2 separate regions of the Homo sapiens genome follow, and region 2 is linked to region 1. Evidence: fine-mapped expression QTL. Tissue or cell type: whole blood. Region 1 holds a variant in brackets; the other region holds the start of a gene. All regions are shown on one strand. Distances are between the middles of the regions.

Region 1 (11,399 bases):
TTTCTTTGCCACCCTCAAAACACTTAGCTTGGTATGGTCATATATCAGTTAACAACACGGATACATTTTTTTTTCTGAGACAGAGTCTCTCTCTGTCACCCAGACTGGCGTGCAGTGGCGCGATCTCAGCTCACTGCAACCTCGGCCTCCCAGGTTCAAGTGATTCTCCTGCCTCAGTCTCCCAAGTAGCTGGGACTACAGGCGCGCATCACCACGCCCAGCTGACTTTTGTATTTTTTTAGTAGAGACGGGATTTCACCACGTTGGCCAGGATGGTCTCGATCTCCTGACCTCGTGATCTACCTGCCTCAGCTTCCCAAAGTGCTGGGATTACAGGTGTGAGCCACCGCGCCCGGCTAACAGGGGTACATTTTAAGAAATGTGCTGTTAGGAAATTTGATTGTTTTGTGGGCATCATAGAATATACTTATGCAAACCGAGATGGTATAGCCTACAACATACCTAAGCCATGTGGTATAGCTATTATACTCTTAAGGGACCCCCATCATAAATGCAGTTCCTCATTGACTGAGACACTGTCATGCATCACGACTGTATTGACTGCTAGTAAGAACTCACACACAAGTTGAAGACCATAATTTCATTCTTACCTTCAATCTCATCCCTTCTGCATGGGTATCTTTTTGCCTTTCAGATCCTGCTAAATCCACCAGGTTGAGTAGGGAGGTCCGTATATTCACAATCTCATTACTTTTCTCCATTGACTCTATTGTAATTGTAAAGACGGCATGAGACCTAGACGATTCTCTGTTCATTGATGTTGATGCCACACGTCTATTCCTCCATCCTCCAGACAACACCTATGCAAAAGGAAAACATATTAAAAGAAATGAGAGGACCAGTTACAGTGGCTTATGCCTGTAATCCTAGCAGTTTGGGAGGCCATGTCTGGAGGATCACTTGTGGATAGGAATTCAAGACCAGCCTGACCTACATAGTGTGAGACCTCACCTCTACAAAAAATAATAATTTGCTATGTACAGTGGCAGGAACCTGTAGTCCTAGCTACTCGGGAGGCTGAGGTGGGAAGATCTCTTGAGCCCAGGAATTCAAGGCTGCAGTGAGCCATGATTGTGCCACTGCACTCCAGCCTGAGCAGCAGGGCAAGATCCTATCTTAAAAAAAAAAAAAAAAGGAAAAGAGAAAAAAAAAGGAACAAGAATAGGTACACTTAAAATGTAAAATAAGCACTTGAGAATCACTCATTTTATTATGAAAAATACTAACATACAGCTAATTATCTACTTTCATAGGGAAAAAGAAATATATTTACATAAAGCATATTTTCTATTTAGAACAGGGGTGAGGAGTATCTATTGCCTTCCATTGTTATCTAGCTTTATAAGATAAATTATATTATCCCAAGTTCCAAATGGTACACAACAGCCACCAAAATCAGTAGGAAATTTGTAAAGGGTGGTGAGAAAGATTACTGGTCCATTAAGGAATAAGCTGAAGTTATTTTCCTTTCCTTTGTGTTCCCTTTCCACATTACAGAAACAGAACAAACAGGAAATCAGAGCGCATAGGATCTAGAACTGGTTTTGCCACGCTTTATTTGTGTTAACCTAATGTAAATCACAAAACCTCTCTGAACCCATTTCTTTACCTAGAAAATGAGAATGTTGGACAGGAAAAATCTGTAAATTATCTTTAAGCCCAAAGTTTTGTAAGCTTTTGGTCTACAAAGTATTTTTTCCCTTCTATTCCCTATGGCAAGCAGGATACATGAAAGTTCAGAATGCAGGCTCTGGAATCAGATGCATATGAGTTCAAACCATGGCTCCACTATTTACTAGGCGAGGTCTGGGGCCAGCTGAACCTTTTCAAGCCTCAGCCTTCATATTTGTAAAATGGGAATATGGGTACCTATCCCATAGAACAGAACATATAAGTTTTAGGTGCATATGAATCATCTACAGATGTTGTTAAAATTCAGATTCAGATTCAGTGTGAGGTGGGGCCTGAGATTTTGCATTTCTAACAAGCTCTCAGGTGATGCTGATGTTCTGAGGACCACATTTTGGGTAGGAGGGTAACAGTATATATAGGGTAAAATGGGGAAATTAGTGTCTTTATCTCAAAGGGCATATTGAAAATTAAGTAAAATAATGTATACAAAAGAAGTTAGCACAGTGCTTGGCACCTTCACTCAATAAATCATAGCTGTTGGCAGGGCACGGTGGCTCACGCCTGTAATTCCAGCACTTTGGGAGGCCCAGGTGGGTGGATCATGAGGTCAGGAGACCGAGACCAGTCTGGCTAACACGGTGAAACCCCGTCTCCGCTAAAAATATAAAAAATTAGCCGGGTGTGGTGGCATGCACCTGTAGTCCCAGCTACTCGGGAGGCTGAGGCAGGAGAATCGCTTGAACCCGGGAGGTAGAAGTTGCAGTGAGCCAAGATCGGGCCATTCCGCTCCAGCCTGGGCAACAGAGACTCTGTCTCATCACAAAAAAAAAAAAAAAATTCGTAGCTGTTATAACCCTATTAATCAGCAACAGTATAAAACTGAAATTATTTGTATCTTTTTTCTTTTTTTTAAGACAGAGTCTCACTTTGTTACCCAGGCTGGAGTGTAGTGACATGTTCATGTCTCACTGAAATCTCTGCCTCCCAGGCTCAAATGATCCTCCCACCTCAGCCTCCAGAGTAGGTGGGAGTACAGGCATGCATCACCATGCCTAATTTTTTTGTATTTTTAATAGAGACAGGGTTTCATCATGTTGGCCAGGCTGGTCTTGAACTCCTGACCTCAAGTGATCCACCACCTTGGCCTCCCAAAGAGGCTGGGATTACAGGAGTAAGCCACTGCGCCCAGCTATTTGTATCTGTTATGTTTCTTGGATAGTACTTTATGCTTTCTTTTTATAACATTAAATACTGTATATTACATATTAAATACATCTGATACATTCATACAGCTACAAAAAACAAGAGAGAGAGAGAGATCCTCCAAACTGAGACAAATTCCAAAATACTATTATCTAAAAAAAGCGGCCGGGCACTATGGCTCACGCCTGTAATCCCAGCACTTTGGGAGGCCAAGGCAGGTGGATTACCTGAGGTCAGGAGTTCAAGACCAGCCTGACCAACATGGTGAAACCCCGTCTCTACTAAAAAATACAAAATTTAGCTGGGCGTGGTGGCAGACAGCTATAATCCCAACTACTCGGGAGGCTGAGGCAGGAGAATCTCTTGAACCCAGGAGGTGGAGGTTGCATTGAGCTGAGATCATGCCATTGCACTCCAGCCTGGGCAAAACAGCGAGACTTGGTCTCCAAAATAAAAAAGGCAAGGTATAAAAATAGCACAGTATGCTGTCACTTGTGTAACATAAGGGGAAAAAGCAAATACAAGCATGTTTGCCTGAATACTTCTACAAAAATCAAAATAAAAAATCAAAAACAAAAATACCTGGTGAGTGTTCATAGATTGGGAGACTCAATATTGTTAAGATGCCAGTTCTACCAAAAATAATTGATAGATTCAACACAACCCCACTCAAAATCCCAGCAGCCTATTTTGTAGAAATTGACAAACTGGTTCTATGTAAATGAAAATGCAAAGGACAATGAATAACCAAAATAATTGTTAAAAAGAACAGTGTTGGAGGACTTACCCTACCTGATCTAAAGACACTACTTAGCAACAAGTTATATAATAATCAAGACCATTTAATATTGATGAAAAGAAACATATAGATCAACAGAACAGAATACAGTTAGATATAAACCCATATGTGTACAGTCAATTCACCAAAGATGCAAAGGCAATGTAATAGGAAAAAGAGTTTTTTTCAATAAATCATGCTGCATACTGGATCAAAAACAAAAAGGCAAGAAAAGAGAAGGAAGTATTAGATGAAACAGGCAAAACACACTAAGAAAGATGGTAGAAACCAGTCTAAGAATATCAACAATCATATAGTAATGTAAATAAATTAGGTAAGGTACTGTCATGAGCAGTTAAAAAAACGAGCAAAGTATAGCTATGTGGTTTACAATAAACACCTAAAACATTAAGAAACAGAAGGGGCCGGGCCCAGTGGCTCGCGCCTGTAATCCCAGCACTTTGGGAGGCCGAGGCAGGCAGATCACGGGGTCAAGAGATAGAGACCATCCTGGCCAACCTCATCTCTACTAAAAATACAAAAATTAACAGGGCGTGGTGGCGCATGCCTGTAGTCCCAGCTACTCGGGAGGCTGGGGCAGGAGAATAGCTTGAACCTGGGAGGCAGAGGTTGCAGTGAGCCGAGATCATGCCACTGCACTCTAGCCTGGCGACAGAGCGAGACTCAAAAAAAAAAAAAAAAAAAAAAGAAACAGAAAAACTGATGGGAAAACGTATACCAGGCAAATGGTAATCAAAAGAATGTTCAGTGGTAGGTGAACATCAGACAAAACAGATTTGTAAAGCAAAATGTGTTGATAGGAAAGTACAGAATCAATAAATAATTATAGGTGAAAATAAAAGGAAGATATATACTAATTCTACACTTGTATATATACCTAATAAAGGAGTCCACAGCAGGTCCTCCATTTCACTTCATTCAGTGTTATTTTGTTGTGAACTTGAGAAAATAAAATGATTTCCACCCGGGGCAACTGTCTGTGTAAAGACCAGCCCGGCCAACATGACAAAACCCCATCTCTAATAAAAATACAAAAATTTAGCCGGGTGTGGTGGCACAAGCCTGTAGTCCTAGCTGCTCAGGAGGCTGAGGCACAAGAATCGTTTGAACCCAGGAGGCAGAGGTTGAAGTAAGCCAAGATCGCACCACTACACTCTAGCCTTGGAGAGAGAGTGAGACTCCGTCTCAAAAAAAAAAAATGTCATAAAGTATATGATACTCATACAAATACAGGACAATAAACAATGCAGTATGAAAGTACTCAGTGAGCCCGCCATATTTGTTATTGTTTGTTTCTGAACTGTATGGTGGTAGGAAGTGCTCCTGACAATTTCTACTTTGCAAACATTTATTCCCGATTTAACCCAACACCATGACTGCCATCACTCACTTATCCACCAAAACCTGGGTAAATAATTATCTTAGTTGTTATTATTCTTTTTAAAATAAATGTATAGTTGACATTTATTTCAATGTTTAATATTAGAAGTGTGTTGGGTTCTTATTGAGAAGTTTGGTGATGCTTTTATGACTGGAAATATGCAGTAGGAACTTAACTCTTCTTTGTATCAATTAGCCTGTAGTAAAATTGGTTTTATTATACATCGTTTCACTTAAAGTCAGTTTCCAAGAACCTATAAGGATGTTAAGTGAGGACTTGTTGTGTTTCCATATGTGTATGTATCTATTTTATATATATATATATATATATATATATATATATATATATATATATATATAAAATTAGACAAAAATCGCAATGAAACTGAAAAACCAACACCTTAGTGGGAAATCAGTGCATCTCTCTGAAGTATCAATAGATTACACGGACAAGAAAACTAGCAAAAATATAAAACCTTGTACCAAGGATACATATTCTTCTCAAGCACACATGACACACTTAAGAAAAAGGTTATTAATCCATAAATTATGTCTCAAAAAAAACTCAAAGACTAGATGTCACATAAGACCACATTCTTCGATCCCAATGCAATTGAGAATCAATGTGAGAAATAAGTTAGAAATCCTCACACGCTTTGGAATTTAAAATCACATTTCTAAGTAATTCATGAGTCAAAAAAAATTATAGTAGAAAAATATTTGGATCTACACCGTAATTAAAATATTAAAACTTGTGTGAAGTTAAAGAAGTATTAAGAAGTAAAAATTTATAGTATTAAATACTTATATCACAAAAGAAATGCCAACGTGAGTAAACATCCAGCTTAAGAAG[T/G]TGGAAAAAGAACAGCATGATAAACCCAGGATAAACTGAAAACAAAGAAAATATTAAAGAGCAAGTCCATATAAACAATAACAACTGTGTAAAAAGGAAACAGAATGGCAGTATGGCAAAGATTGTAAAAATGTGAATACTAGGAACAACTTTATGCCAATATACTTGAAAACTAAGAGGAAATTGAAATTTTTCTAAAATACATAACTTACTAACACTGACCCAAGAAGAAATAACATGGCTGCATGGCTCTATTAAAATATTGTTTTGTAGTTAAAAATCTCACAAGACCCAGATAATTTTTCAGATGAGTTCTACTATGTATTCTAAGAATAAGTCATCCCAGGCACAAATACTTTCAGAAAACAAGTAACATTGATAATAAAACAAGACAAAGAGAATAGGGCCAGGTGCAGTGTCTCACGCCTATAGTGGGAGGCTGAGGCAAGGTGAAATGCTTGAGCCCAGGAGTTCAAGACTGGCCTGGACAACATGGCTAAACCTCATCTCTACAAAAACATTCAAAAATCAGCCAGACATAATGCTGTGCACTTGCAGTCTCAGCTACTAGGGAGGCTGAGGTGGGAGGATCTGTTAAGCCCAGGAGGTCAAGGCTGCAGTGAACCATGATTCTGCCACTTGTACTCTGGCCTGGGTGACAGAGCGAGACCCTGTCTCAAAAAAAAAAGAAAAAGAAAAAAAGAAAAAAGGAATAGGACAAAGGAAATTACAGATTGATCTCAATTTTTTAAATTTATGAAAAACACTAAACAAAATAATAGCAAATCTTAATCGAGTACTTTATCGTGTTAACATGTTAAAGAAGAAAAAGCACAAGATTATCTCAACAATGGTGGAAAAAGCATCAAACAAAACTTTAACACACATTCTTGATTTTTTAAGACAGCAAGGTGGCTGATTATAAAAGCATCTTATAAAAATCAACTGCATTTCTATACACACCAAACACTAAATGTAATTTAAAAAAGAGATTATGTGCCGGGCACGGTAGCTCATGCCTATAATCCTAGCACTTTGGGAGGCCAAGGCAGGTGGATTGCCTGAGCTCAGGAGTTCAAGACCAGCCTGGGCAACATGGTGAAACCGTCTCTCCTGAAATACAAAAAATTAGCCAGGCATGGCAGTGCGCGCCTGTAGTCTCACCTACTTGGGAGGCTAAGGCACGAGAATTGCTTGAACCTAGGAGGCGGAGGTTGCAGTGAGCCAAGATTGCACCACTGCACTCCAGCCTGGGTGACAGAGCAAGATTCTGTCTCCAAAAAAACAAATAAAAAAATAAATAAAAATGAAAATAAGAAAGAGATTATTAGAGAAACTAAAAACATAAGGTATACTGGAATAAAGTTAACAAAAAGTATGTGTGACTTTTATGATGAAAATTATTAAAATTATATTGCAAGACATTAAAGATCTAAAAAGAGGAGACATACTATGCTAATGTATGGACTGAATATTGTAAAACATTGTAAAAAGAATTGTTAATCCCTCCAGACTGGTCTATAACTGCAATGTAATTCCAATAAAAAACCCAACACAAATTTTTGAGTATGTATGTATACACATACTACGTCACATGTACAACCTATCTCTCGCCGGGGGGAGTCTCAATTTAAACAGCTGGAATCAAGAGACTTGATTCCATCTTTTATTGAAGATAAAAGAATAAATTATAAAATATCATACAGCAGTGAAAATAAATGAAATGCAACGTAGATTTCATAAACCACATTGAGTTTTAAAAGTCATAGAAAGCTAAATATGTGTTTTTCAAACTCAAAAACAGGCAAAACCACATACATATGTGATTTAAAAGTGGAAGAAAATGATAATGACATTCAACTTAGTGCTTAATTTTGGGGAAGAGCCAGGGATATGGGATAGGGAGGACAGGTATCCTATTTACCTATTTATAGCATATTTAAAGAACCAAATATCACCAGTAAATCGGATAGTACTGGTGATACCAGGGTCTTTAAATTGTCTAAAAGCCTCCTGAAAGTTCACTTTAACATTATGCTTGGTAACTTACATGCTTGTGGCAATATTTCATATGTGTCAAATGCTTCATAATAAAAAACTTTCAAATCATTAAGCCAGATCAGATTTCATAAAAACATATCTAGAATATTTTGTAAATTCCTGTCAAGAGGTTTGCTTGTCCTGAGCTGAATGCTCAAGGTAAGTTAGCTTTTGACACCTAACAAGCAAGCAACGTAGAAAAGAACAGCCAGCTGGTTTAAAGGCCAGAGTTCCCAGAAGCCCCTCAAACAGGCATCTCCCAGGAGGAACCACTAAAAACATATGGACAAGTAAGAAACTGATGATACAATGTATCATCTTATTTCTGTATAAATTGCCCTTTCGAGGTTCCATTTTGAAAGACTCTTGGAAAAGAAAATACTGCCATATTATTTTATCTTTACTTCCCATGAACATTCTGTATTATGCCTTTATGACATATTTTTGGTACCTCAATTGTCACTTTTTGGAGTTTGGGGTGCATTCACAGCAGGTTTGTTGCCTAAGCACCAATTAAGTACTCATGGCAGGGTACCTGATAGGCTTCAGCAGCTGAGGTTACCACCTGCTCCACCGCACCAACAACAAAGACTCCCTTCTTGATATGCTCCCTTAAGTACAGTCCAGCCGATGCAGAGTCCAGTAGATCATATATCTGCTCGTTGTAGATTTCAATAAAGGAACACTTACAAAGGAAACTCTTTCCAGCTCCAGCCTGTAAAAAAGAAGCCTCATTTAGATACATTATTTTCATGTGTTCATACCTAGTTTTCATGAGCATTAATTTTGCACTCGCTTCACAAGATGTAAATTTCCTATGCTATTATCCTTTAATACAATATAAGATACCTAAAAGTAAAAAAAATCTAGATAAATAGTTTTTTTGTTTTGTTTGAGATGGAGTCTCACTCTGTTGTCCAGGCTGCAGTGCAGTGGCGCGATCTTGGCTCACTGCAAGCTCTGCCTCCCAGGTTCACGCCATTCTTCTGCCTCAGCCTCCCGAGTAGCTGGGACTACAGGTGCCCGCCACCACGCCCGGCTAATTTTTTGTATTTTTAGTAGAGACGGGGTTTCACTGTGTTAGCCAGGATGGTCTCGATCTCCTGACCTCGTGATTTGCCTCGGCCTCCCAAAGTGCTGGGATTACAGGCGTGAGCCACCGTGCTCAGCTGATAACTAGTTTTAACACATCATTATATTTTAGAGCTGCATCAAACTGTGGTGCCAGGCACCCTAGAGGCCTCCACAGGTGCCTGGGAGCTAATACAGGGGGAGGAGAATTGAGCAGTCCAGTTGGGAAATTCCATTTTTGTCTGTCTTATATATTTGATGTCCTCATAAAGTTTTATTTGAAGCAAGTGTTATGTTCTTCAAACGATTGAAAATAATTTATTTTAAAAGACTTTATAGGATTTTTAACCATAGAAATGCATGGTACTAAATTATTTCACTGCCATACAATTTGTGTGTCTAATTTCAGTGTTAGGTGATTTCTGCAAAGGAGTAAATGGTAAACCAATGTTATATATTTCTTTGGTACACAAGTAATGGAACATAAAACACTAATGGTTCTAAGCCCCGAATTCACCAAGCTAAATCAGCACAACTGTGAGAAGGCCCAACCTGGGAGCCAATGCAAGAGGAAAGACCATATCCCCAGGGTGATGGAGCCATACCACATGTGGAGCACAAAGATCATGGAAGGCAGTAGCAGGTGCTACAAAGGTGGTGAGGATGAGTCCATCACTGCTGGATGTCATGAGGATTTAGGGACACCTGCAGTCACCTGTGAGCCTAGGTACAGGTAGATGATTAGGCTTAGTGTATTAATGTATCTGTTTTCCTCAGTTGAGATTTTCTTTACAGTTTCTCTCTTACAAAATCTTTTTTTGAGAGCCTCAGAAGCACTATTTTCCTTTCTTGTAAACCAGCAATTTGGGATAAAGGATAATGCATGTTTTATAAACTAAAAACTCAGTTGAGATAAAACAACTCAGAATCCTTAATATTATCCTCAGAATTGAAAGGTTTTTTTTTATGCCACGCTAGTCTATTCATATTGTAGAGTACCATCCATGCTCCACCATGTATCATGAGCTAATTATCAGTAGCTACCTATTCAAAATTAGACATTTCATAGAACCACTTTATTTTTACATTGTTTTACCTTTTCTTTTTCACGATCAATTAAGGAAAACAAATATTCAAAACTTCGTGGGATTACTCCTCTCAGGTTATGAGAAAAATTATCAGATTCAGATGGTCCTAAAAAAATGAAAAAAAAAACACTGGATTTTTATTCTATTCCAAGAGTCTTTCAAAATGGCAATTTACACAGAAATTAGATGATACACCATACAATCAGTTTCCTACTTGTGCTCCAAGCAAGTTAAATCTAGGTCTGTGAGAGAAATTGAAATTTTTCCAACTGCCAGGTACCAAAATCTGCAGGAATATCAAATAATTGTCCTTTATTGCAGCACATTTGGTCTCATAGACTGACCTGTGCTCCAGGCCTTGGCCCCATACTGTGTGACCATAGGCTAATTACTAAATCCCTCTTAAGCTGCAGAGTTCTCAATTATAAAATGGGGATAATAATGGTAATAAATATCACATAGGGTTATTGGAAAGAATTAACTGAGAGGCCAGGCGCAGTGGCTCACGCTTGTAATCCCAGCACTTTGGGAAGCTGAGGCGGGCGGATCACAAGTTCAGGAGATCGAGATCACGATGAAATCCCATCGTTACTAAAAATACAAAAAAAAAAGTAGCCGGGCGTGGTAGCGGGCGCCTGTAGTCCCAGCTACTCGGAGAGGCTGAGGCAGGAGAATGGCGTGAACCTGGGAGGCGGAGCTTGCAGTGAGCCGAGATGGCGCCACTGCACTCCAGCCTGGGCGACAGAGTGAGACTCCGTCTCAAAACAAAAAGAAAGAATTAACTGAGAGTGTAAAGGTAAAGCACTTAGAGCCATGTTAGTGCTTTAAACACATTAAGTACTAAAAATCAGGATTAGCTAGTTGATTTTTTTAAAATTAGGCAATAAAAGCCAAGCTGGTAAGAAAAGTACTGTAAGAATATCTTACAAGATTTCCACATAGACAGAAAAATGCAGAGTCTCTATTTTGTTACACTGGGAAAAGGAAGAGTGGATATGCAAATAGCAGGATTCTAAGGAATTCTAATTCAAGTTATAGCAATATTTACCAGAAAAGTATATATAGCTAGAAAAGATCTAGATCTATTTAACAATCAAAATATTGGTGAAGTATGCCTTAGAGACCAAAGGAACTAACAAAATGCTGACATGCACAAGAAAAATAGAGAATAAATTTTAAAATATAATAGTTGTCTTTGGTAGAAGGCCTTGTACCACACCTGGAATATTTAAAATGGTCCTTGTAATCTGTAGCTTAAGAAATATATAACAGAGGTAGAAAAATGCAAGTAAATAAAGAGAATGAATATTAG
Region 2 (7,725 bases), 61 kb after region 1:
GTACAAATTGTTCACGACTACCTGCTTGGGCAATGCCTGTACCATACTGTTTGTTAAATATGTGGACTATCTTACCTAAACCTATCTTTATCTGATGTATTAACTTACAACATGGATATGCTATATACAAAAACAAACTCCAGTTGGTTTAAGCAACCAGATGTAAAACCAAAACTCTAAGCACATTTTTAATTCCTTTACTCTCATTTTTCCAAAATAAAAAGGTTTTTTTCTTATCATACAAAGAATGCATGCTCATTCTATTAAATGGTCAGCTACTCCGAAGAGGAAATCACTTGAAACCCAGCCACAGAAAATAATAGTATTTTAATGGACCTTCTTCTAGGTATCTCTTGATGCATATAAACATAAATACGTACATAAGTGTACATATATTATGCATACATATTAAACTAATCCAAATTCTTCAGGACACAGTCATATTCTCTTCACAGAGTTCCCATAACCTAAGAATACAATTTACCCAGAATTATTTTACTGAGTTTGACAGACACCCAGGCTCCATGTTGCCTTTTGATTGCCAGTGACAATGTCAGCTGCAATAACTTAAGCTCTTGTTCTAAACATGGCCAGAAGCCCATTCCATATTCTCTGAGGAAATACCTAATCACATTTGCAATGGGTTTTCCAATAATTTACTACCCATATTCCTTGATCCAACCACTACACCATTAAGGCATCATACTGAGCAGTTCAATAAGTGGTTTAAAGATGTGCTACCAGATGACTGTAGAGTCTTCAGTTCAGGTACTCTGATAAGAACTTAGTGCACTCTAGGACCTGTCCCATAACCAATTATTCCATAGCCGTTTTCACAGTGGGCCACCCTCACTGATTTGAGTAAAATGGTATCCATTTCTGTGTGGTCCTGCATTTTCTGCTGGGTCCACATTTAGTGGACATTGGTGGGTCCCACCATAGGTCTGCCATCACTTCTGATGGTAGTCTCACAACCACCACCATCCTGGGCTCTCTAGTTAGAGTTAACTTACCAAGAGACAGGTTGTTAGGAGCACAAGCAATACTGGCTTTTCTCCTGGGGGCTCTTCTCTTGAGGAAAGGCAGGAATTTGAGGCACTGAGGGAGGAAAAAGAGCCACTCATAAATTGCCAGCCTACTTCCTACACCTTCTAGATTCAGGGTAACTCAAGAACATCCCATCTCTAACCAAATGACCATTTTAAGTTCAAATGAAAGAATATCGTTATTATCCTAGAGGAGTATCTCCAGTGACAAAAATTAGTGAGTTGGCAGACTTCAGAGAGATGTGACAATGTACAAAGAGGGCAGGTCCTTCCTAGGACTAAGCATCTGGGCGTAAAAATTTCTTTATACGACATCAGGTTGGAGCCCAATGGCTCCCCTAAGTCTACTGGAAAAGCCATTGATTTCAAAAGTCAAATGCTGCAGGGCTACAATAGAGGGCAGTAGGACCAGTAATGGACTCAGTCAAGAGGTGTGGATTCTAGTCTCAGCTCTGCCACCAATTTGTTCAATGACCTAACACAGGTCACTCAGTCTCATCCATTTCTTATTTGTTAAATGAAATTGAAAAGCTAGATAATATTTAAAGCTTCTTGTAATATCAACATTCTACAAAGCTTTGATTCTATATACAGATGGGAAAAGAGCAAAAACCTCAAATCAAGCCCTTCCAGTCCATCTTTGATTGAATCTGTTTATTCATTTATTTGAAAAGTACTAAATGAGCTAGCCGTGAGGTGAATGGGTCTTGTTAAGAACGGGCTGAATCAACAGCAGGGAAACTTCCTGTCAGTTATCCTCCTACAATTAGAATTGGGGGAATTTCTCGAAAATAACAAGAGGATTGCCTTTGTGTAAGGAGTATCTGCTGTAAGATGTTAAGGACTCTTCATAAGGGAAAGGTTTCAAGAACCCTCCTAATGCAAAGAACACTGTATTCAAAGGCAGGAACCTGGTTTCCTGTCTAATACATCCCAATCCACTAGCATCTCTTAACTGACACTGAACAAACTGTTTAATTATTTTCAAACGTCTCTTTTATTTCCTCATTTGGTCAAATAAGCCAGCAATTATTTTCAAGCTTGCAGTCAACCTTTAATATTTAGCTCAAATGTGAAACTTCACACCTCTTCCTTGTGGGAAAATTTTGACTTTTCCAAGGCCCTTCCTCGTCTACATTCTCAAAGAATTTTACAAGTTTCTACTGTAGGACTTTCTAGTCTGATTACATTCTGTCTTCCACCAGCAAACTTACAAGTATGGCATGGGCTCCAGGACTAGGACTTTTGAACAAGTTACCTAACCTTTTTTTGCTCCAGTTTTTTCAACTGTTAAATGGAGACGATACCAGTAACTACTTTATAGGGTTGTCGTAATGAATAAGTGGGTTACTACATGGCAACTACTTAGAAGAATGCCAGCTGGTAAGCATTCAATAAATAGTGCCTGCTGTTAAAGTATTGAGTCTACATGTCTTCATACGGTACCTATTTTGTTGTTGTTAGAGAAGAATAAATAATGAAGGGAAGGCACTAATTCTTGCATATACTTACTTCAACCCGCACAACTTTGGGAAACGGCAAGGCAGGAAACAGTATTTACTTCTGGAAATCAGAAAACTAAAGTGCCCAGAAGTTCACTGACATGCTTAAGTATGTATAAATCGAACCCAGGTCCTCCGACTCCCAGCCTAGGGCTCTCGAACAGCCTCTCCTTTCTTCATGGCAAGTTTGCCCTAGGCCTCGGGCCTCCGCTCCACAGGCCCTCCAGGAAGAAAAACGCCCTGCTTCCCGAGGGAGGAGCTGGAATCGACCCGCGGCAGCCGGGCACAGCAGAAACCGCTCACCATGCGCTTCCCGCGGCGCTCCCCGCGGCGCTCCCCTCTCGCACCTTGCAACACTCAGGTCCCTGGGTGCTGCCCTGCGGAAAGGAGTAAGTCCCGGACGCGCCCAGCCGGCGTGACGTCAGCAGTCCGCGCCTCGGCTAATAACCACTACCGTCTCCTCTCTAGGAAGGTGGGAGCGGCTTCCGCTCGGTGGTTCCTTCCCGCACGCAGCTACGGGTTTCGGTGCTGCGCCGGTTAAGCCGGCACCAGAAACAACCTGCGACCCCACCTGGCGTGCGTCTTCCAGCACAGGGAAACGGGATGGAAGTCAGAAGGGTCGACCACAAGGAGCTCTTACTGTGCATCAGTTCATCCTGCAAGTCCGCCACATTTAGCTTCCTATGTTACTGTCCTTTGGGGATTCTCAAGGCTTTTCACAAAACTGGCTTCCACCTTCCTCACACACATCCTCATCTGGAAGAAAACTGACCTCTTCACAGAAACCCCTGACACCTTACTGACCCAGGATCTTTGTTCAGGTGGCCAAAAGAAAAAGTTCTGCAGGCCAGGCGCGGTGGCTCACTCCTGTAATCCCAGCACTTTGGGAGGCCGAGGCGGGCGGATCACCTGAGGTCAGGAGTTCAAGACCAGCCTGCCCAACATGGAGAAACCCTGTCTCTACTAAAAATACAAAAATCAGCCGGGTGTGCTGGTGGGCGCCTGTAATTCCAGCTACTCCGGAGGCTGAGGCGCGAGAATCACTTGAACCTGGGAGGGGGAGGTTGCAGTGAGCAGAGACTGAGCCACTGCACTCCAGCTTGGGTGATAGAGTGAGACTCTGTCTCAAAAACAAAACAAAACAAATCAAACACTGCTTTGGGCTCAAATCCCTGATTCTCAGTGTATGAACTTTGCAACTTTACCTCTCTGTGCCTGCTTCCTCACTTACCAGGTATAATAATGGTACCACAGGGTTGTTGTGAGGATTAAGTGAGGTTAATACGTGTGAATTACTAAGAACATCTAGTATTTTTTAAATCTTCAGTAAATGTTAGGACTATTGTCTGTGTCTCAAATCCCAGCTCCAGTACCTATTGTTCTGCCCTGACTTCACTGACCTTTCAGGGCCTCAAGGTAGCACACCCATCCCTTTCTACAAAACTTCAGATCTTGCTGGCTCTAACTCAGGAAATATTTGCACACATGGGCTCATCTTGACAGGTAAAGTCCAGAGATAAAGGCATGAGTGGAGAGTACCTTATTCACTTCCAAGCATTCCTACTGATCTGCAATCTCAGGACAATAGGGCTGTGTGCACACCATCATATCCCTAGTGTGCAGCATATAGAAGTGAACACTTGCTGTATAAATTAATGAGATGCAGCAGAGAAATTATCCATTCCAGGCCAGGCATGGTGGCTCACACCTGTAATCCCAGCACTTTGGGAGGCCATGGGGGGCGGATCACGAGGTCAGGAGTTTGAGACCAGCCTGACCAACATGGCGAAACCCCGTCTCTACTAAAGATACAAAAATTAGCCGGGCGTGGTGGTGTGCCCCTGTAATCCCAGCTACTCAGGAGGGTGAGGCAGGAGAATCACTTGAACCTGGGAGGCGGACTTGCAGTGAGCCGAGATCATGCCACTGCACTCCAGCCTGGGTGACAGAGCCAGACTCCATCTTAAAAAAAAAAAAAAATATCCATTCCAATCTTCAGATTGGCTGTTTTCCCAAAATGGAGTCCCTTTTGGACACAAATCAGGAATGCTGGTGCCACAGACTGAGGCCATCGCTATCTTTGGCTAAAAAGTGACCCTTTGTAAAATTGTCAGTTGACATGCCATGTAACAATAATGTTAAGTTTCCCTCTCCAGGTGTCACATTCTCAGCACTTCTTTGGAATCAGATAGCAAGTTCTTCCCTCCAGCCCTAACATCTCACAGGCCAGAGACCCTAGGTCTAATTATTCATTCCCCAAACATTAGGCTTCAAAGAGTCTCCAAATCAGCAGGGTGTAGTGTGTGGAGGACATTAAGTCTGGAGGGAGGCACCTGAGGTTACTAGAAACCGTAATCTGGAGTTTAATAGCAGTTTGGGCTGAGCTTCTTTCAATGAGGTGGAAAACGGATGGTAGGGATGGACACCAAAAACGTTCCAAAACACTAAAATAACCTTAGCCCTGATGTGGCCACTGGATAAATGAAACTAATGCCACATATCGTCAAGATTAGGTTTCTACCTTATGTAGAAAGTAGGGGTCAAAAGGTATCATCAACTTACTTGTCACCCTCACACTCAGGAAAGTCTGAGATTTTGAGAACAAAAAGCTTCTCAATCTTATACAAGTGAGCTCCTCACATCCTCAGGATAAGGAAAAGATTGGAGCACTAAGTGGTCAATTCTAGGCTGGATGCAGTGGCTCAGGCCTGTAAGGGAGTCCGAGTTAGGAGGATCATCTGAGGGCAGGAGTTAGAGATGAGCCTGGGTAACATAGCAAGAATCTGTCTGTACCAAAAAATAATATTAAAAAACTTTTTTTTGAGACAGACTCTCACTCTGTCACCCAGGCTGGAGTGCAGTGGCATGATCTTGGCTCACTGCAACCTCTGCCTCCTGGGTTCAAGCAATTCTCCTGCCTCAGTCTCCTTAGTAGCTGGGATTACAGGCACGCGCCACCATGCCTGGCTAATTTTCATATTTTTAGTAGAGACGGGGTTTCACCATGTTGGTCAGGCTGGTCTCAAACTCCTGACCTTGTGATCCGCCTGCCTTGGCCTCCCAAAGTGCTGGGATTACAGGCGTGAGCCACCGCACCCGGCCAGAGAATACTTTTTAAAAATTAGCCAGGCATGGTAGCTCACGCCTGTAGTCCCAACTGCTTGGGAGGCTGAGGTGAGAGAATCGCTTGAGCCTGGGAGGTCTAGGCTACAGTGAGCTAGGATCACGCTACTGCACTCCAGCCTGGGCAACAGACCGAAACCATCTCAGAAACAAAAAAAAGTAGTCAGTTCTATAAAAAATAAAGAGGCATATGGAATAGAGGTATGACCAATACAGGGAAAAGTAAATGAAATGCAAGGACACTGCAGTTTAAACCTCATCTGACACTGGTTGTGTGGTCTTGAGCAACCCCAACATCTTTTCTCTTTTGTTCTGAGGATCTGACGTGGCTCCATCTGTGTCCTTCTAAAGTCATGAATTAAATTTCAGTGCACAATAAGCAAGACACTCAAATTCTTTATCATCCCAGGGCCCAAAATCTCAGGAAGTGCTTCCACTTTGGTACTTTTTTTTTTTTTTTTTTTTTTTTTTTTTTTTTTTTTAAGAGAGAGGGTCTCACTCTCTGATACGCAGGCTAGAGTGCAGTGGCATGATGCTAGCTCACTGCAGCTCCCAACACCTGGGCTCAAGCGATCCTTCCACCTCAGGCTCAGCATCCAGAATAGCTAGGACTACAGGCATGCACCACCATACCTGGTTTATTTATTTATTTATTTATTTATTTATTTATTTTTTTTAGACAAGGTCTTGTTATGTTCCACAGGATGCTCTTGAACTCCTGGCCTGAATCAATCCTCCCACCTCAGACTCCTGAGTAGTTGGGATTACAGGTGCAAGCCACCATGCCTGGCCCAGTTTGGGATTTGTAAACTGCAAATGCCCTCCTGCTAGGCCAGCATTACTCTTCAGTTCCTGCTATTTCATAGGTATTCCAGTTGACACAGGTGTGTTTCTGCAGTTGCATGCATTTTCCTCCTGTTGACCCTGACATCAATATAATTGAAAGCGTTTAGTTAAATTGTGATAGGACTTTTAAATCTCTAATTGAAAAATATTGTTTCTTATGGGATCTTCTGTTTAATACAATCTTAGGGAAAGTTTCAGAACTGTTGCTCCTGGCAGACACTTCGTGGACACGCATACTCACCATGCCTCCTTCCTGCTGACAACTGGGGACTTAAGTCACAACCTGCAGACTAGCACAGAGAAATGTCTGACTCTTCAGTTGAGTTCAACAAATGCTTATTGAGCACCTCCTAAGTACCAGGCACTGTTGATACAAAGGTAAAGAAATTTCACATTGTTCCTTCCCTAGCAAAGCTGACAAAGGGAAAGATGTGTGAACAAACCATTATAATGTAACATAATAAAATGATGAAAAATACAAGACAGAATAAAAAATACATGAGGTTAGAGACAGCTTTGAGATATTGCCTGAGCACACTCGTAAGTGAAAAATGGGAGTTTTGCAGGCAAGCAGAAGCAGGGAAAAGGAACTGAGGCAATAGGAACACTATGTGCGGAAGTGCCAAAATAGAGTCCAGAGGTGATATTCCAGAATCACAGGAATTTGAACTATGGAATAGAACATGCCAGGCAAGGAATGGCAGCTAAGGATGGCAATTCAGGCATGGGTCAGATGAGGGGCCTCACCTGCCTCTTTAAAGGACTAGTGCTTTATTCCGAAAACAATAAGCAGCCAGTTATGCTTATAAAGATCAAGAAGAAATGTGAAAGATGGCCTAGTGGGGCAAGAAACTGGAAGACTGGTAGATAAATTTTAAAATAGGAAGTCCAGGCACAGTGGCTTATGCCTATAATCCCAGCACTTTGGGTGGCTGAGGCAGGCAGATTGCTTGAGCCCAGGAGTCCGAGACCAGCCTGAGCAACATGGTGAAACCCATCACTACAAAAAAATATAAAAATTAGCCAAGGATAGTGGCACATGCCTGTAGTCCCAGCTATTTGGGAGGCTGAAATGGGAGGATCGCTTGAGCCTGGGAGGTGGGGGTTTGCAGTAAGCAGAGACCATGCCATTGCATTCCAGCCTGGACAACAGAGTGAGATCCTGTCTCAAAAAAAAAAAATTAAAATTAAAAATAAAATAGTCTAGA

What was found. PIP is the estimated chance that this variant, and not a neighbour inherited with it, causes the effect. A credible set is the group of variants that fine-mapping cannot tell apart.
Region 2: ZNF501 starts here. The variant in region 1 is the best candidate, but not a certain one, in a credible set for the expression of ZNF501 in whole blood (TOPMed, PIP 0.55).

The regions. Positions count from the first base shown.
Region 1 is chr3:44,783,639-44,795,037 of GRCh38, reverse strand. KIF15 (kinesin family member 15) reads right to left here. Exons shown (of 35, transcript NM_020242.3): 6 at 10,096-10,193; 7 at 8,464-8,643; 8 at 612-821. Among named protein-coding and RNA genes, the nearest start is that of KIF15, 28 kb to the right of the region's middle. The variant T/G (reference allele first, on the strand shown) is at 5,889.
Region 2 is chr3:44,724,849-44,732,573 of GRCh38, reverse strand. ZNF501 (zinc finger protein 501) reads right to left here and starts at 2,939. Exons shown (of 3, transcript NM_001258280.2): 1 at 2,559-2,939; 2 at 1,014-1,098. LOC105377056 (a long non-coding RNA gene) reads left to right here and starts at 3,048. Exons shown (of 3, transcript XR_940788.4): 1 at 3,048-3,782; 2 at 6,704-6,895. RefSeq lists an enhancer at 3,059-3,128.